Regions from separate parts of the Homo sapiens genome. Here regions 2, 3 and 4 are each reported to be linked to region 1. Evidence: microRNA targets listed by miRTarBase, many of them from high-throughput screens and not tested one by one. Region 1 holds a microRNA gene; each other region holds the end of a gene's coding sequence.

Evidence for each region. The annotated mature microRNA hsa-miR-3135b reads GGCUGGAGCGAGUGCAGUGGUG and lies in region 1 at 2,172-2,193, opposite strand. An mRNA with a match to its seed (bases 2 to 7 or 8) in the 3' UTR can be bound and repressed. Matches are read on the target gene's strand: a 7mer-m8 pairs with bases 2 to 8, a 7mer-A1 pairs with bases 2 to 7 and ends in A, and an 8mer does both.
Region 2: miRTarBase lists WDR17 as a target of hsa-miR-3135b. Seed matches in the 3' UTR shown: 7mer-m8 at 1,617-1,623 and 7mer-m8 at 859-865.
Region 3: the mRNA of FLG2 is a reported target of hsa-miR-3135b. Seed matches in the 3' UTR shown: 7mer-A1 at 1,086-1,092 and 7mer-m8 at 2,005-2,011.
Region 4: miRTarBase lists IL2RA as a target of hsa-miR-3135b. Seed matches in the 3' UTR shown: 7mer-m8 at 1,309-1,315.

The regions. Positions count from the first base shown.
Region 1 is chr6:32,747,781-32,750,933 of GRCh38, forward strand. It overlaps MIR3135B (microRNA 3135b), which reads right to left and starts at 2,199; the gene lies at 2,132-2,199.
Region 2 is chr4:176,179,298-176,182,297 of GRCh38, reverse strand. WDR17 (WD repeat domain 17) reads right to left here. Exons shown (of 29, transcript NM_181265.4): 29 at 1-2,838. The coding sequence ends at 2,719. Among named protein-coding and RNA genes, the nearest start is that of SPATA4, 15 kb to the left of the region's middle.
Region 3 is chr1:152,348,203-152,351,202 of GRCh38, reverse strand. It overlaps FLG2 (filaggrin 2), which reads left to right. Exons shown (of 3, transcript NM_001014342.3): 3 at 1-2,468. The coding sequence ends at 593. All of the region lies in intron 7 of CCDST (cervical cancer associated DHX9 suppressive transcript), which reads right to left. Among named protein-coding and RNA genes, the nearest start is that of FLG2, 10 kb to the left of the region's middle.
Region 4 is chr10:6,010,280-6,013,279 of GRCh38, forward strand. IL2RA (interleukin 2 receptor subunit alpha) reads right to left here. Exons shown (of 8, transcript NM_000417.3): 8 at 410-2,617. The coding sequence ends at 2,593. Among named protein-coding and RNA genes, the nearest start is that of IL2RA-AS1, 24 kb to the right of the region's middle.

The DNA.
Region 1 (3,153 bases):
AATAATATAAGGGGGTATCTGAAAAGGAACAAATGCTTGTTCCTTACTTAGGGTTAGTGACAATGGAAAACAGATAGAAGTAGAAGCTACAGACCCATTTAGGGGCCCCAGCCCCCTGCTCCTCCCCCTTCCTGGCTAAGGAAAGCATGAGCCTATGAGAGAGAAATCCTAGGAAGAACAAGACAGTTGAGACAATGTAGCAGCAGTAGTGGGTGCTGTGTCCTACACTGGATTCGTGGTCTCCTAATAGAAAATCTCTCAGAGGAAATGGGTCCACAGGGACCTGAGAGCTCTAAACAGCTATGAAATCTGCCAGGATATTTCTGTCCATGCTATCTGCATCAGTGAGTTTAAAATGTAATAGGAGAAAAAAAAGAGACAAAACATTAACATAATAATTGATACAGCATAGTTTTGTACAAAGAAACCTAAATCCAAATACTTGACTCAGTATTTTGAAGCTAGTATTTTAAACTTTACTGGGTAAAGTATCTGATTGACATTTCTGAACCTTATTTTTCTCATCCACAATGTGGGAGTGATAATATTTTCCTTGCAGAGTTATTGACAGAATTTGAATAATCTTGGTATATAGACAGTGCCTTACACGTAGTATATAAATATATAAGAAAACACTGCAGTTATGTTTATAATGGATTTATTAAAAAGAATGGATCATATTATATGAAAAGTACATTTGTTTTCCTTAGCCCTTTAGTGATTTAGGAGATTCAAGCGTAGACGTAAAAGTGAGTTTCTTTTCATATGTTAACTGGAGGATTTTTTTCTTTCTTGAGAGGCTGAGATTGGGTTGCTAAGAGAACTCTTAGGACAAGAAGTTGTAATATTTGACTTCGGTTTTTAACTCTCTAAGGGGTATATTCCCTCCTTATGTCCCATAAATTTTAAGTCAAGGTGAATTATATGCAACAGCAGTTTATCCATATTTACTTTGGGGAGGAGGTGGGGAGACTCCGGGAGAAAATAATTATAAATGCAGACTGGGAATTAGTAAGTGCAGGGAATCTGAACCAGTGGTGATCATGAAAACGTCCATCACAGAACACAGAGGATTTTTAGGGCAATGAAACTACTCTATTTGATACCACAATGGTGAATAAATATCATTATGCGCTTGCCCAAATCCATAGAATGTACAACACCAAGAATGAACCTTAATATAAACTATGGACTTTGGGTGATAATGATGTGTCAGTGTAAGTTCATAAGTTGTAGCAAATGTACCTCTGTCATGAAGGATGTTACTAGTGGGGGAGGCTATGCATGTGTGGGAACAGAGAGCATATGGGATACATCTATCTGTACTCTACAATTTTTCTGGGAACCTAAAACTTCTCTAAAATAAACTCTATTAAAAAAAAAGAAAAGAAAAGGTCAACAATAATGATCCCAAATATATAAAATTAAAACTGTAGTATAAAAATGGTCACATGAAAATGCATGAATGTGCTAAGAACTTTTCTGCAATAGGATTTAAAATAAATTTTATATAAATTTCAATGATTCATGAGCCAAGAACCCAGCATTCTGGAGGTGTGTGCATTTGTGTGTGTGTGTGTGTGTGTGTGTGTGTGTGTGTGTGTGTAAGGCTTACATTGAATGGCATTATAACCAGAGTCATACAGAAATACACAAATGCTCCCCTATTTAGAATCCTTCCCCAAGAAATACTGAGGAAAGCAAATATAATGGTAGTTGGATTTTACTGAAAGAATGTATTCAAAAAGTATTTATATAATGTTAAAATAGCATAGCTAAAATTAGTTTTATAAAATAGAGCAAATATATCTTTTTATCAGCTAAAAGTTCAAAGTGAAATCATCATTATTATATTATTATATTATTATTATAAACAGTTATAAATCAGGCTGCATGATTTTAAATTAAATGATTCTTAAAAATTGTTATCTGAATTATTTCAGATTACATACATAAAGTATGACTTCATTAATAGGTAATATCACATTGTTTAAATTTTACAAAATTTCCAGTCACAATGGTTCATGCCTGTAATCTCAGCACAAGGTGAGGGTCCCTTAAAGCCCAGGAGATGGAGACCAGTCTGTAGTCCCAGCTAGTAGGGAGGCTGAGGCAGGAGGATTGCTGCTTGAGCCCAGGAGTTCGAGGCTGCAGTGAGCTAGGACTGACTGCACCACTGCACTCGCTCCAGCCTGGGCAACACAGCGAGACCCCGTCTCTAAAAATAAATAAATAAATGAATAAATAAATAAAAATTACAAAACGTAAAAATCACGTAAAATATTTCAGGTTTGTACTTACCACATACAAACTAGAGATATGAAGAATTAAACATTACAAATAAAGCACTTCACACACAGTCTGGCCCATAGTAAGCAGTTTATAGAAGTTAACAAATTTGTGTTATTGTTATTTTCTGGAGTCCAAGACAAAATCCCATGATGAATGACACCACAAGGATGTAAGCAACAAAATTCAGAATATGAGAAGTTCTACTAGATTAAATAAAAAGATTTCTCCAGCAAACAATTTGCAAAAAAAGTTAAAAATAGAGAAAAGAAAAGCTATACACTTGAAAAAGACTGAAGAAATATAGTAACCAAACGCTGAGCTTTGTCTAGATTCATATTCAAACAAAACATCTGTTAAAAAATTTATATGAGGCAATCAGAAAAATTGACACTGAGTGTATTAAGGAATTATTTATCTCGTTTTAAATGTGTTAGTGGCATTGCTGTTATGTTTCTAAAAAGCCATTATATTTTAGATTTTCATAATAAAAATGTATAAATGAAATATGATACCTAAAAATATCTTCAAAATAATCCAGTATGTGCCTGTATGATAACTGGGTGGGTTTACAAAATTGCTCATGAATTGATTATTGTTAAAGCAAGGCTGTTGATACATGGAATTCTTCTCTGTACTATTGCACACAGTTGAAATTTTCTGTAATACAAAGGTTTTTTTTTTAAATGTATTCAGGAAAGTCCCATAAACATAGGCAGACAAGCATTCTGTTTGAAGTTATGTTAGTTTTTCAGTTTTTCTCATTTTTATCACATTTAGGAAACCCTGTCCAAGGCCTGCCCAAGACTGTAAGAACCTCTCAGGAATGCAACTATAAAGAATGTGTATGCAGGAACTAATAAT
Region 2 (3,000 bases), not on the chromosome of region 1:
TGTAACTATTTTGATGTTGTAATTTTGTGAACCACCTAGTTACTAACTTTTACAGGCAAAATATTTTTCCAATGCTTTAAAAATCATTGTCTAATGAGACTCTTCCTTTACAGAGGCATATTTAAACCTGCAAAGTAATTTGTCCACATTATTGGTAATATGAACATTTTCAAATAGTAAAATAAATTCATATAATTTGCTTGGGTTTCATGCATATGAAATCTAATAAAAATACTTTTATGAATTAAAAAATTTGTTTTTCATATTAAGGTACAATATATACAGATTGACATAGTCAAATGACATTTATAATTCTATGAAAAATTAATAGTTATAGGTAATAAGATATAGACATTGTAGAAATCAAAGATAATAGAATGATGGTCAAATCCATCCAATTTAGATTTCAGACAGAAATTGGGTGGCTATTCTGTTGTATTTATGTGCTTAAAGACTTGCAAAATTTTTTCTTCATCTTTTATACATAAAAATATTATTTTCCTGCATTCATTAAAAATACAGAAGTAATGATTGTTTATATACTTAATGATATCCTTTTAAGTATGTAAGCACAAAAAGATAGGCTTATTTATTTATTTTAAAATAAAAAGAATGACAGTAGGATTGAGACTGCCATTTTTAAGTGAGGGGTTTTTAGTACATATGTGCCAGTTAATAATCCTCCTCACCTAAGAAAAATTTGAGTTACAGATATCTCTAAGAGTTTAAAAAAATACATCTCAGGTACTCTTTTTATATTATCCATTGCATCTCTGAGTTGTGTATATTCTCTTCTATAATATTAATTATTTTTATATATATAATTTTTGGAGATGGTGGTCTTGCTCTGTCGCCCAGGCTGGAGTGCAGTAGTGCGATCTCAGCTCACTGCAACCTCCGCCTCCTGGATTCAAGCGATTCTCCTGCCTTAGCTTCCTGGGTAGCTGGGACTACAGGTACACACCACCACACCCAGCTAATTTTTGTATTTTTAGTAGAGACAGGGTTTCACCATGTTGGCCAGGATGGTCTCCATCTACCGACCTCAAGATCTGCCCATCTCGGCCTCCTGAAGTGCTGGGATTACAGGCAATTTTTTTTTTTTAATAAAATGGAATTTAAGCCTGTAATGTCTTTTTAAGGAATCAAAAGTGGTCATGTGATAAATATGATACATAGATACATAATATATATTTTTTCCAGTTTTAAGAAGTTTTGTTAAGAAGGTTTTAAAAATATTTTAAATGCAACAAGTTTAAAGATAATAAAAGCCACAAGTATTCTAGTTATATGAGATTATTCTTTAGTCAAACAAAACCATCTATATTATAAATCTTGTGAAACAACTTGAGTATCAAAGTACTTCCAGTATGCATTAATTTAATAAGTTTCAAAGTCAGAATTCTAGTCCAACTGAAATATCTGTAGTCACATTATCAGGCTTTTCATAGCTTCACACTTTTAAACAACATTTTAAAAGTTAAATCAACATAATATATCCAAAAATTCAACCAATATCTATTTACAAACATTTACTTAAAACTAATTTTCATCAAATCAATTGTGGTTTTTGTTGGTTTGTTTTTTGAGACAGAGTTTCGCTCTTTGTTGCCCAGGCTGGAGTGCAGTGGTGCGATCTTGGCTCACTGGAACCTCTGCCTCCCAGGTTCAAGGGATTCTCCTGCCTCAGCTTCCCAAGTAACTGGGATTACAGGTGCCCGCCACCATGCCTGGCTAATTTTTGTATTTTTAGTGGAGACAGGGTTTTACCATGCTGGCCAGGCTGGTCATGAACTCCTGACCTCAGGTGATCCACCTGCCTTGGCCTGCCAAAGTGCTGAGATTACAGGTGTGAGCCACCGTGCCCGGCCAAATAAATTGTGTTTTAAATAAAGTTAACATAAATTGACTAGAGTATACTGTGTAAATTATTGTACACATTAATCAAAACTAATATCCATGCATGCTGAATCTCTTAAAATAGTCACTTTATCACCTAATGCAAGTTTTCATATATATATTCGACTGCATTTTGTGATTTTTACCCGCCAATTTTTTTCAAGCCTATATAACTTACACCTTTACAATGGGACAGTTAAACTTCAGATAAAAAAACTGGTAACATTTTCTTTTTTTTAAAAGTATTTTGAATGTGTATCCATTTATTAATATTTACTAAACTTATAACTGAAAACTTTTATTAAAACAGCTAACGTTAGTGGTTTACTATGCATTTTATAAAGGAGAACGTAAGTGTTTGTTAAGTTGAAGATCACTGTGCACACCTTACATTTCAACATTTCAAGATATTCAATCATTCAAATATCCATTAAGTACTTACTGTATGTCTAGCACTATTCTAGGTGTTGCACAATTTAATATGTTTCAATATTTCAACCATATGATATTTTGGTATCTTTTATGCTGTGTGAAACTTTTATATGCTTTTTAGATTATTCAGTCCTTTATAATTTAAATGTTTCCTCCTTCCCAAACGTAGCTATTACTGTTTATAAAGGAGGCACCTATTTTTCCTTTAAATTATATATATATATATATTTTGAAGTTAATGACTAAAATTCACTGCTATTTCCCACCTCTCCCAACCTGCAATCCTTCTCCCAACCTCTGGCACTTGAGCAACAAAGATTAAGGTAATGCTAACCCATGAAAGTTTTTCTTTAAAAAAAAAAATCAAGCATGGACAAAAATCTTCTATCAGAATGGATTGAGTCGTATTCCAGTCCCTAAAGGTGAGAATGGATTCACCTTTGCCCACATCAAAGCATCATTCAAGGAGATAGCAGATTTCCCGTCTTCAAGGAAAAACACAGGGCCCTGCACAGTGAGAGTTGAGGAAAGAGAAGATGAGATTATAAATTTGCAAAGTATTTTTAAACTTTCAGAAAGAGAATCACTGCAATAAAAAAAAACATAATATTTAGGCAAAGCTAATAAAAAAATGAAGACTATGAGAAAATTAGTTTTTTTGAGCTGGAC
Region 3 (3,000 bases), not on the chromosome of region 1:
CACATTCAGGACACACTCACAGCCAAGCCGGATCTCGACATGGACAGTCAGGATCCTCAGGTCATGGGAGACAGGGAACTACTCATGGACAGACAGGAGATACCACTAGACATGCCCACTATGGTTATGGACAATCCACACAGAGAGGGTCCAGGACAACTGGAAGAAGGGGATCTGGCCACAGTGAGTCCAGTGACAGTGAAGTGCACTCATGGGGCTCACACACACATTCAGGACACATTCAGGGCCAAGCTGGATCTCAACAAAGACAGCCAGGATCCACAGTTCATGGGAGACTGGAAACTACTCATGGACAGACAGGAGATACCACTAGACATGGCCATTCTGGTTATGGACAATCCACACAGACAGGTTCCAGATCTAGTAGAGCAAGTCATTTTCAGTCACATAGTAGTGAAAGGCAAAGGCATGGATCAAGTCAGGTTTGGAAACATGGCAGCTATGGACCTGCAGAATATGACTATGGGCACACTGGGTATGGGCCTTCTGGTGGCAGCAGAAAAAGCATCAGTAATTCTCACCTTTCATGGTCAACAGACAGCACTGCAAACAAGCAACTGTCTAGACATTGACAGTTATTTTCTAGTTCTGACCTTATAGTATCCAAAGCAACTAAAAGAACAGGAAGACACAGTTTAAATCATGAACAGTCAATGGTAAGTTATGAACATTCAGTTGATTCTCAGTATCAGTCTCGACCTATTATTATAAGAAGTCAGGAATCTAGTCATGGACATTCTATAGTAACTCATAAACAGTCAAACAACACCTATGTTCAACCTGGATATAACACAGCCAGAAGGGAGGGATGTACACATAGCCAGTCAAATGACCACCTTGGATTTGGCCATGGACAATCCATATCAGTTCATGGCCATTCAAAATCTAGTTCAATCAGAAAACAGGAATCCCATACTGATAACAAAAAGCATTCAGAAGATTGGGAGAAAGACACTCATGAGCAATTAGGATCTAGGCATGGGAAGTTAGAGTTCAATACAATAGGTATACATGGATCTAGCCAGCAACATTTCGGAGATACAACTTTTCATGGGCAGGTAAGATCCAGCACAGGTTTTGCCAGATAGGTATTAAGTCATGGGCCATCAAGAGATGCCTAGGGTCAGTCTGGATTCAGTACCAATGAAAGACAAGTATACAGCCATGGCCAATCAAATGATAGTTATGAGTAGTCAAATGACAGCAAAAGTCAAAGATACATTTTCAGTCACTTTCTTGACAGCCAAGACCCTGCAGGAATTGAAGAGTATAGGTATAGATATTCATCAAGCAGTGCAACCATATGCAGTGGGGGAGACAAAGGCAAGAGTCAGAGTCAAGTCTGTCAGGAGGTATCAGAATATACGGTGAGGATGTGGGCAAAAAACAAAGAGGCTCTGAGGCCAGCGGTTACCATACAAAGGAAAGAACAGGCTCTGGTTCCTTCTGCTTAGATAGCAACACCCCACTCTATGAATATGTCCAAGAACAAAGGAGTTATTACTTTGAATAAGAAGCCAACATAAACTAGCCCAAGATAAGAACTAACCCAGAGAAGAAATGAGACACATACATGAAATTAAGGTATTTAACATGATCTCCTCTTTTGGTAGTAAGGGTATATGTCTGTTCTTTCATTTTAACTATAGTTCTGTACTATATTACTTTTGTTTGGTGCCAGGTGTTTTTGTAAGGCTCCACATTCATTGAACTCCTTGGTTAGAAAATAGTGAATGAGGCCGGGCGCGGTGGCTCACGCCTGTAATCCCAGCACTTTGGGAGGCCAAGATGGGTGGATCACGAAGTCAGGAGTTCGAGACCAGCCTGGCCAACATAGTGAAATCCCGTCTCTACTAAAAATACAAAAATTAGCTGGGTGCAGTAGCGGGCACCTGTAATCCTAGCTACTCAGGAGGCTGAGGCAGGAGAATTGGTTGAACCCGGGAGGCAGAGGTTGCAGTGAGCCGAGATCGCACCACTGCACTCCAGCCTGGGTGACTGAGCAAGACTCCACCTTGAAAAAAAGAAAGAAAGAAAATAGTGAATGGAAGAAAAAGATAAACACCATTTGGGGCTATATTCAGAACTATATAATAAAGAGAGATTTGTGTGGTTGGGAATAAAATTAGGTTTTAAAAAAATTTCCGAATTTCAAAATTTGGATTTTCCAGATTTTGTTTTAATTAATTATTGACAAACCTATCCAAGGAGCTAAATGACGTGGTTTAGGAGCCAAAACGTCTCTAGAAACATTATAACACATCCCATCCTGAACAAAGAATGTTGTCATAGTTTCCCACATGAATATTCAGAATATTTGCATCTTTTTGTGTCACTACTGGAATTCTGTACAATTATATTTAAATTTATTGTCATGGCCTTCTGGATATAGGATCCAGAAAATTGTACTTCATAAAAATTGGCAATAAACATTTCATCAAGTTATAGTTTCTCTTCTCTTTCATCTCCACAAACACATAGTTTCCTGCCATGGGATCAGATGCAGTTTTCTTCCACCTCCACACAGCTAGATGGCAGTGAAGCACTCAGGTACTAATAATAAGGACTCCAAAGAAGACAAAACTCAACCATATCTGATCTTTTCCTCAATCTAATCGCTGTCCAATGCTTCTGTAAAGCATTTACAGAAAGGCTTTATACTGATGAGTTGACCTCAGATGTTCTGGTTAATCATGATCATCACAGCAATTATTATCAAACATAATCCCAAGAAGCTACTTTCTAAGACAACCCAAGCTCTGGAAATAAGAATTATACACCATGGATTTTCTCTGTCAAAGATATTAATGGAAGAATCACTATCAATAGAAGCTAATTGGGTCCAGAGGTTTCCAGTAGAAGAAAAACAGTTAAAAATATATTATTCCTGCCTATAAGGAGAAAATACATGAATTTATTATGAATAGTGAGAGAAGTAATGATGAGTAGAAGAATTATGTACAAAATGCACTATCCTCA
Region 4 (3,000 bases), not on the chromosome of region 1:
ACTATAGAGGATACCAGGCTGGGTGCCGTGGCTCACGCCTGTAATCCCACCACTTTGGGAGGCTGAGTTGGGTGGATCACTTGAGGTGAGGAGTTCGAGACCAGCCTGGCCAACATGGTGAAACCCCGTCTCTGCTAAAAATACAAAAATTAGCTGGACTTGGTGGTGGGTGCCTGTAGTCCCAGCTACTTGGGAGGCTGAGGCAAGAGAATCACTTGAACCCAGCAGGCAGAAGCTGCAGTGAGCCGAGATTGTGCACTGCACTCCAGCCTGGGCAACGGAGCAACACTCCATCTCAAAAAAAAAAAAAACAAAAAAACAAAAAAAAAGCACCAAAAAACTATAAAGGTTTTTGGTTATGTAGATTATAGCTAGCAATATTTATCATATTTATAATAAAAACCAAGACTTTTTAAAAAATATCATTTATTCTTTTATAAACAATAGCAATAAATTTATTATATGTTAACAGCAGAGTGATGACATCATCACGTATCACATAGCTTCTGGAAAATTCCACCATACACTTTTGAGAGAAGGACAGATAAATGGTCGATAACATCTTAGTATTATCATGGAAAAGTTTTGATCTTATAGACCCCTCAACACCCAAAAGTCGTAATCAGTTCTACTCAAGTAAGATTTAAATATATATCTATATTTTCTGGTCTGAGATTCTTTTCAACTTTACTCAGAAAACATATACCTGAAGGGGGAGGGGGAGAGTGCACAGATGAGTCTGTTTGTATGTGGTTGGTCACAGAAATGACAGAAAATAGTTATTTAATCTGAATCTGGACCCTGCTGAAAACTGCCGTGATTTCTCATAACACTCTCCTGCCCCTTCAGAAGTGAAAACTGGCTGATAGTTTCCCAAATGAATAATTTTCGTTAATGTTAATCGTGTGATGTTGTTGAGCTAGAATGTTGACTCAACTGATTCGTGAGGGGAGATCTTGCACCAGATATGGAACCAGGACTTCCACCGAAATCTTAGCTCTGGAAGTTGATTTTTTTCGTGGGAGTTGAGAGTGGGTGGGCGTGCAGAGCAATAACACAATGGTTCTCAAAGTGTGTTCCTGGAATAGTAGCAGCAGCAACAGCACCTGGGAATTGTTAGACACACAAAACATTTGGCTCTATTCCAGACCAACAACTCAGAGACTCTGAAGATGGGCCCAGCGAACTCTTTTAACAAGGCCTCCCGGTGATTCTAATATGCTGAACTTTTTGATAATGTTCAAGGACTGCTGGTATGCTCATCTTGTCTTTTTTTCCTTAAAGACAGGATCTTGCTCTGTTGCCCAGGCTGGAGTGCAGTGGTGCCATCATGACTGACTGCAGCCTCGAACTCCTGGGCTCAAGCAATCCTCCTGCCTCAGCCTCCTGAGTGGCTAGGACTACAGGCGTATGCCACCACATCCAGCCAATTTCTAATTTTTTGTAGGGATGTGTCTTGCTATGCTGCCCAGGCTGGTCTCAAACTCCTGGCCTCAAGAGATGCTCCCGCCTTGGTCTCCTAGGGAGCTGGGGTTATAGGCCTGAGCCACCGTGCCAGGCCTGATGCGCTCTTTTCCGTGGTTACGTTCTACCAGTGTGACCTCCATCCCTTCTCCCTCTTCACTTCCTTCTTTCTTTCCTTCCTTGCATAAACATTGAATGTACGGATCCCTTTTTGGTGTTTTTAGACACTTCTCAGGAAACGTACGCATTGATTTGCACCTTGTGTGTCCACCTGTAAACATCAAATTAGTGCAGGCCAAATTCAGGGTATCATTCATAGCAATCCCAAAGAAACTAACTCTTAAAGAGGCCAATTAGTAACGCACAGGTAAAACTTTGCTAAGTATGATTCTCTGCCTGGGACCTCATTCATCCTTCTGTTCCTGACATTGCCTCATGGGTTTGGCTGCCCCGTTTTGAAGTTACCCAAAGATTATTCTGCCATGGCCTCTGTTTTTTAGAAATTCAAGACTGAAGGCTCAGTAGAAGGGGGTTAGCTTAGAGGATTGAGCCAAGGGTAAAATGATTTCTGGGTAGCAGCCCAGAGTTCTTGAAGGATGTTTATTAGGCAACGTGAACGGGAGAATCAGCAGTCAGAAGCGGCTGAGAAAGGAACCACGCAGACAATGTCCAGTTGTATAGGGTAGAGTGTGTGTGTTGTGTATTTACGTTAGTGCTGGGGCTTTCCTTGGGACTCCTGAACTGGGAAGTTGGAATGAGATGAATGTAAACCTACTTTTCTTTATACTACATATAGGGTGGAGAGAGTTCCATACCATTCATGCTTTAATGAACACATATACATGAAAATAAGATGGAGAGTTCTAGTGGTTTTGCCCTTCCTCTTCAACGGCGAAATTGCTATTTAGAAGTGGGTAGCGCTCGCTCTCTGATGGGACTGAGCTGGCATAGAGACAAGGTTGCCACTGCCCCGTGTCCTGTGATGTGACTTCAGAGCTTCCAAAACGCAGGCAAGCACAACGGATGTCTCCTGGGCGACCATTTAGCACCTTTGATTTCACTTGGGCTTCATGACTTCTGTTGTCTGTTCCCGGCTTCTTACCAAGAAATTCTTGTTCTTTTGGTTTTCTAGATTGTTCTTCTACTCTTCCTCCTGTAGTGGTGTAACAAAGTCACGGTCATATGTGTAACACGGCACCAAAAAAATGTGGTCCTCACTCTAAACCAGTGCACACGCCACCATGCCTGGCTAATTTTTGTATTTTTAGTAGAGATGGGGTTTTGCTATGTTGGCCAGGCTGGTCTCGAACTCCTGACCTTGTGATCTGCCTGCCTCGGCCTTCCAAAGTGCTGGGATTACAGGTGTGAGCCACTGTGCCTGGCCTAAGTTTTTATATGGCAGACAATAGCTGTGGAACAGGAATAATAAACAGCAACTAACTGTGCTAAATGATGTGCATGCAGTAAAGCACTTGGTTTCTAGCCAGCACTGTGCTATAGAACTTTCTGAGATGATGGAAATCTTTTGCAGTTGTG